Regions from separate parts of the Homo sapiens genome. Here region 1 is linked to region 2. The links come from fine-mapping of genetic effects on gene expression. A gene starts in region 2. The other region holds a variant in brackets. All regions are shown on one strand. Distances are from middle to middle.

Evidence for each region. PIP is the estimated chance that this variant, and not a neighbour inherited with it, causes the effect. A credible set is the group of variants that fine-mapping cannot tell apart.
Region 1: its variant is the best candidate, but not a certain one, in a credible set for the expression of VPS37B in blood mononuclear cells (TOPMed, PIP 0.85).

What each region holds. Positions count from the first base shown.
Region 1 is chr12:122,867,664-122,872,663 of GRCh38, reverse strand. It overlaps VPS37B (VPS37B subunit of ESCRT-I), which reads left to right. Exons shown (of 4, transcript NM_024667.3): 2 at 1,603-1,774; 3 at 4,102-4,184. Among named protein-coding and RNA genes, the nearest start is that of VPS37B, 26 kb to the left of the region's middle. RefSeq lists enhancers at 1-460, 262-551, 461-968. The variant G/C (reference allele first, on the strand shown) is at 2,666.
Region 2 is chr12:122,893,130-122,898,599 of GRCh38, reverse strand. VPS37B (VPS37B subunit of ESCRT-I) reads left to right here and starts at 2,476. Exons shown (of 4, transcript NM_024667.3): 1 at 2,476-2,648. The coding sequence starts at 2,538. RefSeq lists a silencer at 2,333-2,482 and an enhancer at 2,663-2,812.

The DNA of each region.
Region 1 (5,000 bases), 26 kb after region 2:
ACAATGGAAGGAAAGACGCTTCTGCATGGCCTGGCATAGAAAGCCCATGGAGAGCCGCCCTGTGGGTGGGGAAGCGGGTGACGGGAGCCCCACTGCTTACCAGAAACCCGAGTGAAACTGCGTCTTTCCAGTCCCAAGATTCTCCTTTTTTGCTAAAGGCATCAGAAGAGATGAAAGCATTTCTACCACCCACATTTCGAGGACACTCCTAGCTTTTACTTTAGAGTTGGGAGAGAGGTTTGGTTTTCATTGTCATTTAAATCCTGTTGGGTTTCAGCAGAGCCTGATCTTTAGGGCCCTGGGTGCAGCTGTTGTCTGGAGATGCAGATCACTGTCTGCTGAAAAGAGCCCTCCTGCTGGGGTTAGGGATCTCCTGATTGAGGCATGGATCCAAGGGCTTCTTTCTTTGTTCTCTGATTCCCTGAGGCTCTTCCTTGTGTGTGTGGTGCGTGTGCACTCGTGTGAGCGCACCAGGAACTATGACAGCAATCAACGGGTATGACTGGGGGTGGGGAGCAGAGGCAGCATGGCCAGGAATCTATACTCGAGCTACTAAGAGGAAGGAAGTCGCAGCAAAAATAGCCTGGGTGGGGTGGTAGAAAATATTAAGGGGAAAATGAGATGACTGGGGTGGCGTTGAAGAAGAGCTGCTTAAAGAGAAACAGGGACACACGCTGGGTAAGGAATCGCATGCTGTTGAAACTGACGGTGTGGAAGGAAAGTGAGGTGGCGGCGGCTGGGCTGTGGTAGAGGAAGCCGATCACCAGTGAGTGAAAAGGGAACTAGGGTACCCACGCGTTTGTGTTTTTTATTTAAACTTTGGCTAAGTTTTGCTAGGAGCGTTTTGCCTTTTTTTCTCAGACCTTCTACTCCTGTCGTTCTCCCCTAAGTTCTGGGCATGTGGCTTCTTCTCTACCTACCAGGGTAGCCTGTCATTGCTTTAAAGGACAAAATGAAATCCCTGATGGGCAAAATATGTCCCCCCTCTTCCCCCAGCTTTTGGTCGGCTTTGCTCACCCACCAACAGCTAGGAGCTGGAAGGCTCAGAAGAGCTGGGGTGGGCATGGGAGAGACAGAGGAACCCCGGTGGCTGGAAACACAGTTCCTTCCCAGGGTCTCTTCAGCTTGCTGGTTGGACCTCTTAGCCTGCTTATGAAGCCTGAATTGACATCATGCCAACTGGTCTCCTGCTGATAAGTGATTCCTTAACTTCCTCGGGAGCAGCAGAAACTTGTTTTGAAAAAAATCAGATTCTAAATCTTTACAGCTGTTTACTTCTGCAAGCACAATGGCCGTAGTAAGGAATTCAAGTCACAGCGCAGCCGTGGCAGGGAAGGCTCTGCATGGAGTCACAGGACAAAGCCTGTCCTGGAAACGTGCTGGAAGGAAGTCGGCCTCATTCTTTACGACGGGCAGCAGCTCCAAATGAGAAACCAAGGGGCTTGGCTCTGGGTCAGTAGCATCTGCCTGGCATGCGGTGCCAGCTGTGGAGACCAGTGAGGTGGCAGCAGCTGCACTGGGCTCCTGGGGTGTGCGTGGGGACCTCAGGGGTTTAGGAGCTGATATACTTTTGGTTCTCATCATCTTGTGTGTTCCTTGCAGACACAGAATGTTCAGCTTAACAAAGAAATGACACTTGCCAGCAACCGGAGCCTGGCAGAAGGAAACCTTTTGTACCAGCCCCAGCTGGACACGTTGAAAGCACGCTTGACCCAGAAATACCAGGAACTCCAGGTTCTCTTTGAAGCCTATCAGATAAAGAAGACCAAATTAGGTAACTTTTTAAGGGTGATCATTCGAGAATAAAGAGTTGAGAGAAGGACACATTTTCAAGCTATTGCCCTACCAGGAAAGAAATATTACGGAAAAATTTCAGGTTAAGATAGCGACTCTACTGCAATGAACAAATAGCTTATGTATATTATTTATTTATTTTTAGAGACAGGGTCTTGCTCTGTCAGACTGGAGTGCAGTGGCGCAACCATGGCTCAGCACGACCTCCTGGGCTCAGGTGATCCTCCTGTCTCAGCCTCCTGAGTAGCTGGGACCACAGGTGTGCACTACCCCAAGCAGGCTAGTTTTTCATTTTTTTGCAGAGAGGTTGTCTTGCTATGTTGCCCAGGCTGGTCTTGAACTCAAGCCATCCTCCTGCCTTTGCCTCACAAAGTGCTGCTATTACAGACATGAGCCACTGTATTGGACTAGTTTATGTATGGAATATGGAGGGCCCCCAGACCTGCGGCCTCTCTGCACTTGCGGTTCGAGAGGGCAGGGTGTATAGCAGGACTGCCCCCTCCTCCCAGTGGCCCTGACTGGTGGCGGTGACTGCTGAGGTCAGCCCAGGTCCACACGCACCTCCAGGGTCTGCAGTGTGAAGCAGGTTGCAGAAACGTGGGTACCTCGGGGCAGTTACCAGAAAAGGGGCTGGAGATTAGGAGGAAGCCAGCCAGTTTAGCAGTCACCAGTTTAGAAGAGGAGACTTAACCACTTTTTAAATTCAAGACCCCACCTTCTCTAAACAGCATAGAAAAAGCTTTCTGAATTATGATATTAAACAGATGTCTTATGACGTTTGCCCGTTTGTCTTATGCTGTTTGTTAATGGTAAAAAAAAAAAAAAAAAAAGCATCACTGAAACACTTTATTTTAATGGCATACTTTAATTT[G/C]CAGCCATTAGGAGGAGACATCAGAATTAAAGATTGTTGAGCATCCTAAGTGCTTTTGATAGTTATCAAAGGGACATTTAGATAAAGTCAGAGCTGGGGGTGGTGGCACACGCCTATGGTCCTAGCTACTTGGGAGGCTAAGGAAGGAGGATTGCTTGAGCCTTGGAGATTGAAGCTGCAGTGAGCCATGATTGCAGCCCTGTACTCCAGCCTGGGCGACAGAGCGAGACTGTGTCTCTACAAAAGAAGTGAAATAAGCTGGGGGTGGTGGTGCTCGCCTATAGTCCCACCTACTCTGAAGGCTGAGGCCACAGTGAACTGTGATTGCATTACTGTACTCCACCCTGGGTGACAGAGACCCCATCCCTTTAAAGAGTTTGGGTTAAAGATCACCTTCTGCAGTGAGGTTTACAGTGATGTCTGTCACTACTTGCTATCATCTTGTCATTTTCTCCATTAACTTCAGTAAAAATTTACGATCATACACCCAAACCAGAATGACGAAAAGTAAAAAGACTGGCAGTACCAAGTGCTGTGAGGTGCCGTGCATCTTGCTGGTAGGAGTGTCCATGGGTCATCTGGGGCTTGCAGGCTGCACTGCCACAGCCACCTCCTTTTCTCATTTCACCTGGGGAAGGCTGTTGGGTAGCACCTGCTAGAATGAAGAGTGTGTATGCGCTGCACAGCAGCTCTGCTCCTGGGTGTATACCCAACAGAAGTGGATATTAATGTCTCTCAGAAGATAGGTACAAGAATGTTGTATCTTTATTACCTTATAATAAAATTTGGAAACAATAAAAATGTCCGTCTACAGAGTGATGGGCACATAAAGTCTGTTTACACAATGGAACACTACACAGCATTGGAAAGAAACGAACTGATTCACAGACCTGAGCAGGGTCTCAGAGACGCGGTGCTGAGTGCAAGAAGCCAGGAGAGTATGACCTGTACTCTCTGATTCCAGGATGTGGAGTCAAGACCAGGCGGACCTCCTCTGTGGTGGTGGAGGCCAGCGTAGGGGTTATCTGGCGGGTGCAGTGGGCGTGAGGGCGCCCGGTGGAAAGGTTCTGTGTCTGGATCTGGGGGGTGGTGGTTGGCGGTTAAACACGTGGAAATTTGACTTACACACTTGAGATGTGTATACTCGATGTAAGTTACCACTCAAAACATAAAGGAAATACAAAGTGGCATGATGAGAATGTCACTGCCCCATATTTGAAAACAGCTGGTTCTAGAAGCAGCTGGTGACACAGGTTGCTCTGACATGGGATGTTGGCCCCTGGGCACTGGCTTGGTGCACTTGTTCCCCTGTAGGTTTTCAAGCCTTTCACATTCAGCTTCCTGGAAAGGAAGGTGCAATCCTGCCGTGGTTGGCATCATGAAGGGCTTTACCTGGACACCTCTCACTTTTGTCATACCTCTTGCTTTTTTTCCAGACAGACAGTCTAGCAGTGCTTCCTTGGAGACCCTGTTAGCACTTCTTCAGGCAGAAGGGGCCAAGATTGAGGAAGACACTGAGGTAAAGCCCACCAGCCTTGGTGGAATCCTTGGGGCGCTTTGGGCAGTCCGTGGGCCCGCTGCCTCCAGGGACCGTGAGTGCCACACCGCCACGGCCAGGAGTGGTGCCTCCCAGGTGTACGGGCTGTATACCAGCAGGCAGCCTGGCCTGTGTGCTGGGGAAAGTGCCAGGCAGGGGTCCAGGGAGCAGCGGGGTGAGTGAGGGCAGGTCCGAGCGAGGGCCAAGAGAGGGCATGCGTGCCACCCTGTGAACGCCGGCCCCTGGGGCCAGTGGCGGATTACCACGTGCCGTCGTTCAAGGGCCAGCTGGGAGGAGGCTACAGAGCTTCTGGGACACGTCCAGCTGCGCATTAGAGCCTTGAGCCTCGCCAGGCGATAAGGAAATGAGTCAAGGTCGAATGTTGTGCAGTTGTTGCAGGCTGGGGCCGGCAGGGTCTTGCCAAGATAGGGCTGGGCTCGATGAACTCTGAAGCCCTGGGGGCACAGGTGTTTCTGTCTTGCTTACCCACCCAGGGCGAGTCTGTCAGTCAGGGTGCAGCCGGGTGGAAGCAAGGAGGTGTTGGACTCCAGCGGGCTCGAGAGAGGCCTGGGACCCAGGAGTCGGAGCCCTCACCCAAAGGCCAGCTCCTCTGCCTGTCACGCTGGTGGTGGGGTGCGCAGCAGGGCTGTCGTCCTCTCCACCTAGTGGCAGCTCATGCTGAAGCCTGAGCCCATGACCTCTGGGATCTGGAGCAGGAGCGAGGCCCTCTGGGTGGTTACAGGGAGGGGGCAGTGTTGGAAGCAGCTGGGCGTTGCCTCTCCTTGTGCCTAGACCACG
Region 2 (5,470 bases):
AAGTGAGCCGTGTTTAAACTTAGTACGTTTAGAGGTCACTGTATATAGGTATGCCATTCTGAAGCCAGTTTTGTTCCTGGGGTATGTTCTTGGTTAAATCACATCATCCCTCTAGATTCTGGAGAGCTCTGACCCCTACCTTATTCTCACCTTCTGTGGGGACTATGAGAAATTCCTGGACATCTTAAGCCTCATAGAGAGGATTTCCTGGAAATAGAGCTACTATTCTCAATTTGACAGGTCTATTCTTCTCCTGGAGGGAGAAGGAAAAAAGAAACGCCAGCTTCCTACATCTCCTTCCCACTTGTGTCCTTTCCTCCTTAGAGCCATCTTTCTTCACCAAGTATAACAAGTTAGAAGGAAGAAAATTACCGAGTGTCCTTTTGAGCTCAATAAAACCTTTAGCTTGGCCGGGTACGGTGGCTCATGCCTGTAATCCCAGCACTTTGGGAGGCCAAGGTGGGCGGATCACGAGGTCAGAAGATCAAGACCATCCTGGCTAACACGGTGAAACCCCGTCACTACTAAAAATACAAAAAATTAGCTGGGTGGGGTGGCGAGTGCCTGTAGTCCCAGCTACTCGGGAGGCTGAGGCAGGAGAATAGCGTGAACCTGGGAGGCAGAGCTTGCAGTGAGCTGAGATTACACCACTGCACTCCAGCCTGGGCGACAGAGCAAGGTTCCGTCTCAAAAAAAAAAAAAAACAAAACAAAACAAACAAAAAAAAACCTTTAGCTTACGGATTATATGAAACATTTCTTTTGGCCGGGCGGGGTGGCTCAGGTCTGCAATCCCAGCACTTTGGGAGGCTGAGGTGGGCGGATCACTTGAGGTCAGGAGTTCGAGACCAACCTGGCCAACATGGTGAAACCCCATTTCGACTAAAAACACAAAAATTAGCTTGGCGTGATGGCGCATGCCTGTAGTCCCAGCTACTTGGAAGGCTGAGGCAGGAGAATCGCTTGAACCCAGGAGGCGGAGATTGAGGTGAGCTGAGATCGCACCACTGCACTCCAGCCTGGACGACAGAGCAAGACTCTGTCTCAAAAAATAAAAAAAGCAATAGTTCCTCTAACTTTCATCATTTTTCTGCAAACACGAGCCCTTAGTACAACGGGCTGGAAGGAGAGAAGAGGTTGGCAGAGCCCAGCCTAACGTATGGATGGAGAACACAGACCTTATGTTTTACCCATGGAGTTGCAGAAGAATCAGCTTTATACACAAAGCCCCTAAGTCTGCCGATAAGCATTTGCTGAATGCCTCGACTGTGTTCAGAGCTGAGTTATGAGACGAGGTCAGTGTGTTATGATGCCAGCGTGGTGGACGCCAGACTGGGAGCCAGGAGACCTGCCAATTACTTGATTTTCAGAAACAAAGCAAAAGCCCAAAAAATTTCCCCTTCTCAGGGCTTCAGTTCCCTTATGTGTAAAATTAGGGGGCTGTCATGGTTAACCTCAGCCTTAGGTTTCTTCTAACTAGAACTGTGACAGATTCCAAAGTAGGATAATGAGTTCCCAGGCTCCTGGATCTTAAGAGGCTTCCCGGTAGCTGAGAGACTGAGAGCGACTGCACCCTAAATCGTGTTGTTTCTGAAAGAGCACAGGTTGGCCCACCTGGATGTCTGGGCACCTTCCTCTGAGGTGATGCAAAGGGGCCACTCAATGGGTCCTTGCTCAAAATGCTCCAGCCTTACTGGCCTTCTTCCCATTCCTGAATGCACCAAGTTAGTCCTGTCCCAGGGCCTTTGCACGTGCTGGTTTTGCTGCCTTGAGCTTCCTACAGGAATGGTGGCTGGTTCCTCCCTTCTCATCCTTCACATTTCCTTAGACGCCACCTTCTCCGAAAGTGCCATCTCTTACTACCCTAAAGGTCTTTTTATTTTCTTATTTCAGTGTCCATTCCCTTATTTGTGATCGCCTAATTATTTTACTTATTTCTTGTTTTGTTTGCGTCCTCTTTCATTCTGTTAGCTCCATGTAAGCAGGGGTCCGTTTTGCTTTATTCAGAACTGTATACTCAATGCCCAGTACAGAGTAGGTCTCAAAACATATTTGTTAAATGAATGACGTGGCAGCTCCACAATTCCAAGTAACCAATGACACCTAAAGTTGTTTCCCCATGAAGTCTCTGTCTTTTGGGTTCCGTGCATCGGGCTGGGCTCACAGGCTGCGGGAACTTCCTTCCCACTGCCTGTTTTCCTTGGATCGCGGTATCTCTCTTCCTGGAGGAAAAAGGCTCTTATGACCTCATGGCGCGCTCTCCCGAGCCGCAGTGACGTCATTAATGCGCTCACGCGTCACAGCCCAATCATAGGGCCCTTCCCCTCCCTTTAGAAGTCCCGACTGTCCCTGACACATTCCACTCCAAGCGAGCCGCGACACTTACGTCACGTCCGCCCGCCCGCGCGGTGATGACGTCACGACCCAGGGCTGGCGTCACGTGTCCCCCCCGCGGGGGGCGGCCCTTGAGGGCGGCGCTTCCGGTCGGCGGAGCCTGGTGGCCGCAGCGGCGGTGGCGACGACGGCCGAGACGTGGGGATGGCGGGCGCCGGGAGCGAAGCCCGGTTCGCCGGGCTGTCGCTGGTGCAGCTCAACGAGCTGCTGGAGGACGAGGGCCAGCTGACGGAGATGGTGCAGAAGATGGAGGAGGTGAGCCGAGCTGGGCTTAAGGCGGCGGCTGTGAGGCCTCGAGCGGGGTTCGCTCCTCGAACGGTGGCCGGAGGCGGAGGCGACCGCGGCGCCTCCGGTCGTGTTGAGGGGACTGGGCTAGAAATGGGGGCGCTTGGGGCGGGGTGCGGGAGCCAGGGAACCGCGACTGGTGCTTAGGCAGGAATAGGGGGCCTGAGAGGGGGTTTGAGGCACTGAGGGGACCGAGACTAGGGCGGAGGCGGGAAAAAGGGTCCTGAGACGGGGCTTGGGGAGCCGATTGGGGGTCCTGAGACAAGGTTTTGTGGGGCTGAGGACTTAAGGCTGGGTCTGAAGACTTAAGGCTGGGTCTGAAGTGGAGATTAGGGAGCCTGGAATGGGAATTTGGGGATTAGAGTGCTATCGTTGGGTCTAGGCGGAAGAGGACGGAACTGGGGGGATCTGAGATTGGTTTGGTCGGAGGAGCGGGGAGAGTAATAAGGGCTGAGTCGGAGGCGAGGATTAGGGGTGACTGAGGGGGACCAAGAGCTAGATCTGGTAGAGGTTGGGGGGTTTCCTTTGAGAGGAAAGGTTGGGGACAACCAGGGGGACTGAGGCAGCTATAGGGGATCAGAGTAGGTTTTGGGGGACTGAGTGGACTATCCAAATAGGACTCTTAGGAGAGGATTGAGGGTTCCAAGATGGGTTCGGGAGGCTGAGGGTCTGTAGCTGAGTCTATGAGGTGGTTCTGAGGCTCTTTAAGGGTTGGGCGAGGGTCCCCAGCCCAGGGTTTGGAGGCAGGAGTCCATGGTCATACCATAGCCAGGGTAAGGTTTGAAGGTTCCATGTATCTAAGGGGTCCCAATAATGCCCCTGGAGTCTGACTTCTTTTGAAGTGGCCCCAGCAGAGTTACGGGAGTTCGTGGATGGGCCTAAGGGTGGCGACAGGATACGTTTTTCTGTAAGGGTTGCCCCCTCCACCGAGGAAGGGAAGGTGGGAAATTTAGTGTGGCTGGCTTTGTACCACTGCGTCCCACGTGTCTGGGACTAAGGAAGGTTCCTGGAGCAGTTTCAGGAAGAAGTTAAAATGGGGGTTTGGGGCTGGCTGCCAACCCTCACCTCTGAGAGTCAAGCCTTGCCCAGCCCCTGGAAGGCATGTGCCAGCTCCTGTTTCTGGTTATCTTCCTTCACACCTTGAGGTGTGGTTTGCTCTCGGGTAACTGACTTCATCCTTGCAGATTTGCAGTGTGTGCTCCCTTTCTCTCAACCCATTTGGACTCATTCTCGGAAAGTCTGATCTTTTGGGTCTGGTTCTCCTCCAGGCAGGTGGGCCCAGGCTAATCCCAGCTCTTCCTGGCCCACCTACCACTCCTTTATGTCTCTGAAGTCTGAGCCTTCCCACGCCTACAGTGCTGAGCCTCTCACCCAGGAGCCCGTGTGGGGGCTTTTGGCTTTCTTTCCGAAGAGGGATTGTTCAGCACCAAGCCAGCCCCCTTAAAAGAGAGCTTGTATGGAGGTTGCACATTCAAAATCCCTGGAAAACCCTCAACAGATCATTGTCCGGAGCTACAGAGAGGCCACTGTAGTAAGATGGTATCAGTCTTTCCATTAATACACCCCTTGTATTCATGGGCTTTGTAACTTGACACATAATAACGTTGCTCCAAGATGCAGTGTACCCCGTTTATGGTCTCCATGTGGCACCTTCCATTTTGGAGAATAATAAGTGATAAAATCCATCCTTCTTAGCTGAATGAGTTTCATGTCTCCAAAGAAAAAATCTTTGCTTAGTTTCTCTGCTTTTCAGTTGCTGGGAGACCTTTTGTTGATTGTCAGCAGGGTTTTTCTGGTTTAATAATAAAATGATAGGTATATTTTTCTAATGTGTAACACTGCCTACAAGTTATTTTGGTATATGTGACTATTCTGTTGCAGTAAGAACTGAGTACTGTAGCTTTGTTGGTGGAACATTAATAGAAATAAACTGCCTTTAGTGGAGGGAAGCTTGTGGAAAGAATCAAGTTCATTCTGTTCACTTGGAGGCTGTTAGGGACAACCTCACCTGTTTCCTCTACCTCAGAACCTGAAGATTATTTTTTAAAGAGAAAGGTAAATTCATCTGGCAGGATTTTTTTTTTTTTTTTTTTTTTTTGAGTAAAAGTGACCTTCATACCTGAATACCCAAGAGAAGTATTGAGGCCTGAGCGACTCCACTTGATAAGCCTGCATAGTTCACATTAAATTACTCAGCAGTAGTTTGCTTTTCTGGGTGTAGTGCTTTTAAAACAAGGAAACAACTTGAAAACCAAAATACCTTAGCTCACCTAGCGAGGATCACTGTCAATCCTGTCGTCCTGGTCATGTGTGGTGTGCCTTTCTCGGAATGGGTGTAATGTGAACCGAAATTTTTGGTCATGGTAGTTTCACTCATCTGGTAATGCTATGCATTGGCTTATGTTGGGGGTAATTGTGAGACACAATAGAAGAAAATATTTTATGAACTGTTGACCAAATGGAACATTTGTGATGGCGTGTTAAAGAACATTCTGGTTTTGGAATCACACACTCCAGACTGGACTTGGCCGCTTCCCAGCTGTGTGATTGCAGGCAAGTCACTTCACCTGCCTGAGTATCTGTTGGAAAAGGATAATATGACAGTAATACCTATTTCATAGAGTGAGGATCAGGTGAGATGATGCCTATTAGTACTTAACACAGCCCATCAGTAGGGCTCAATAAAAAGTAATTGCAATAATTAATCACTTATATTAATAGTTCTCTTTTTGAAAGATGACTGACAATCATTAATACCAGATCATCCTGAAAGTTACTAGGATCCCATTTCA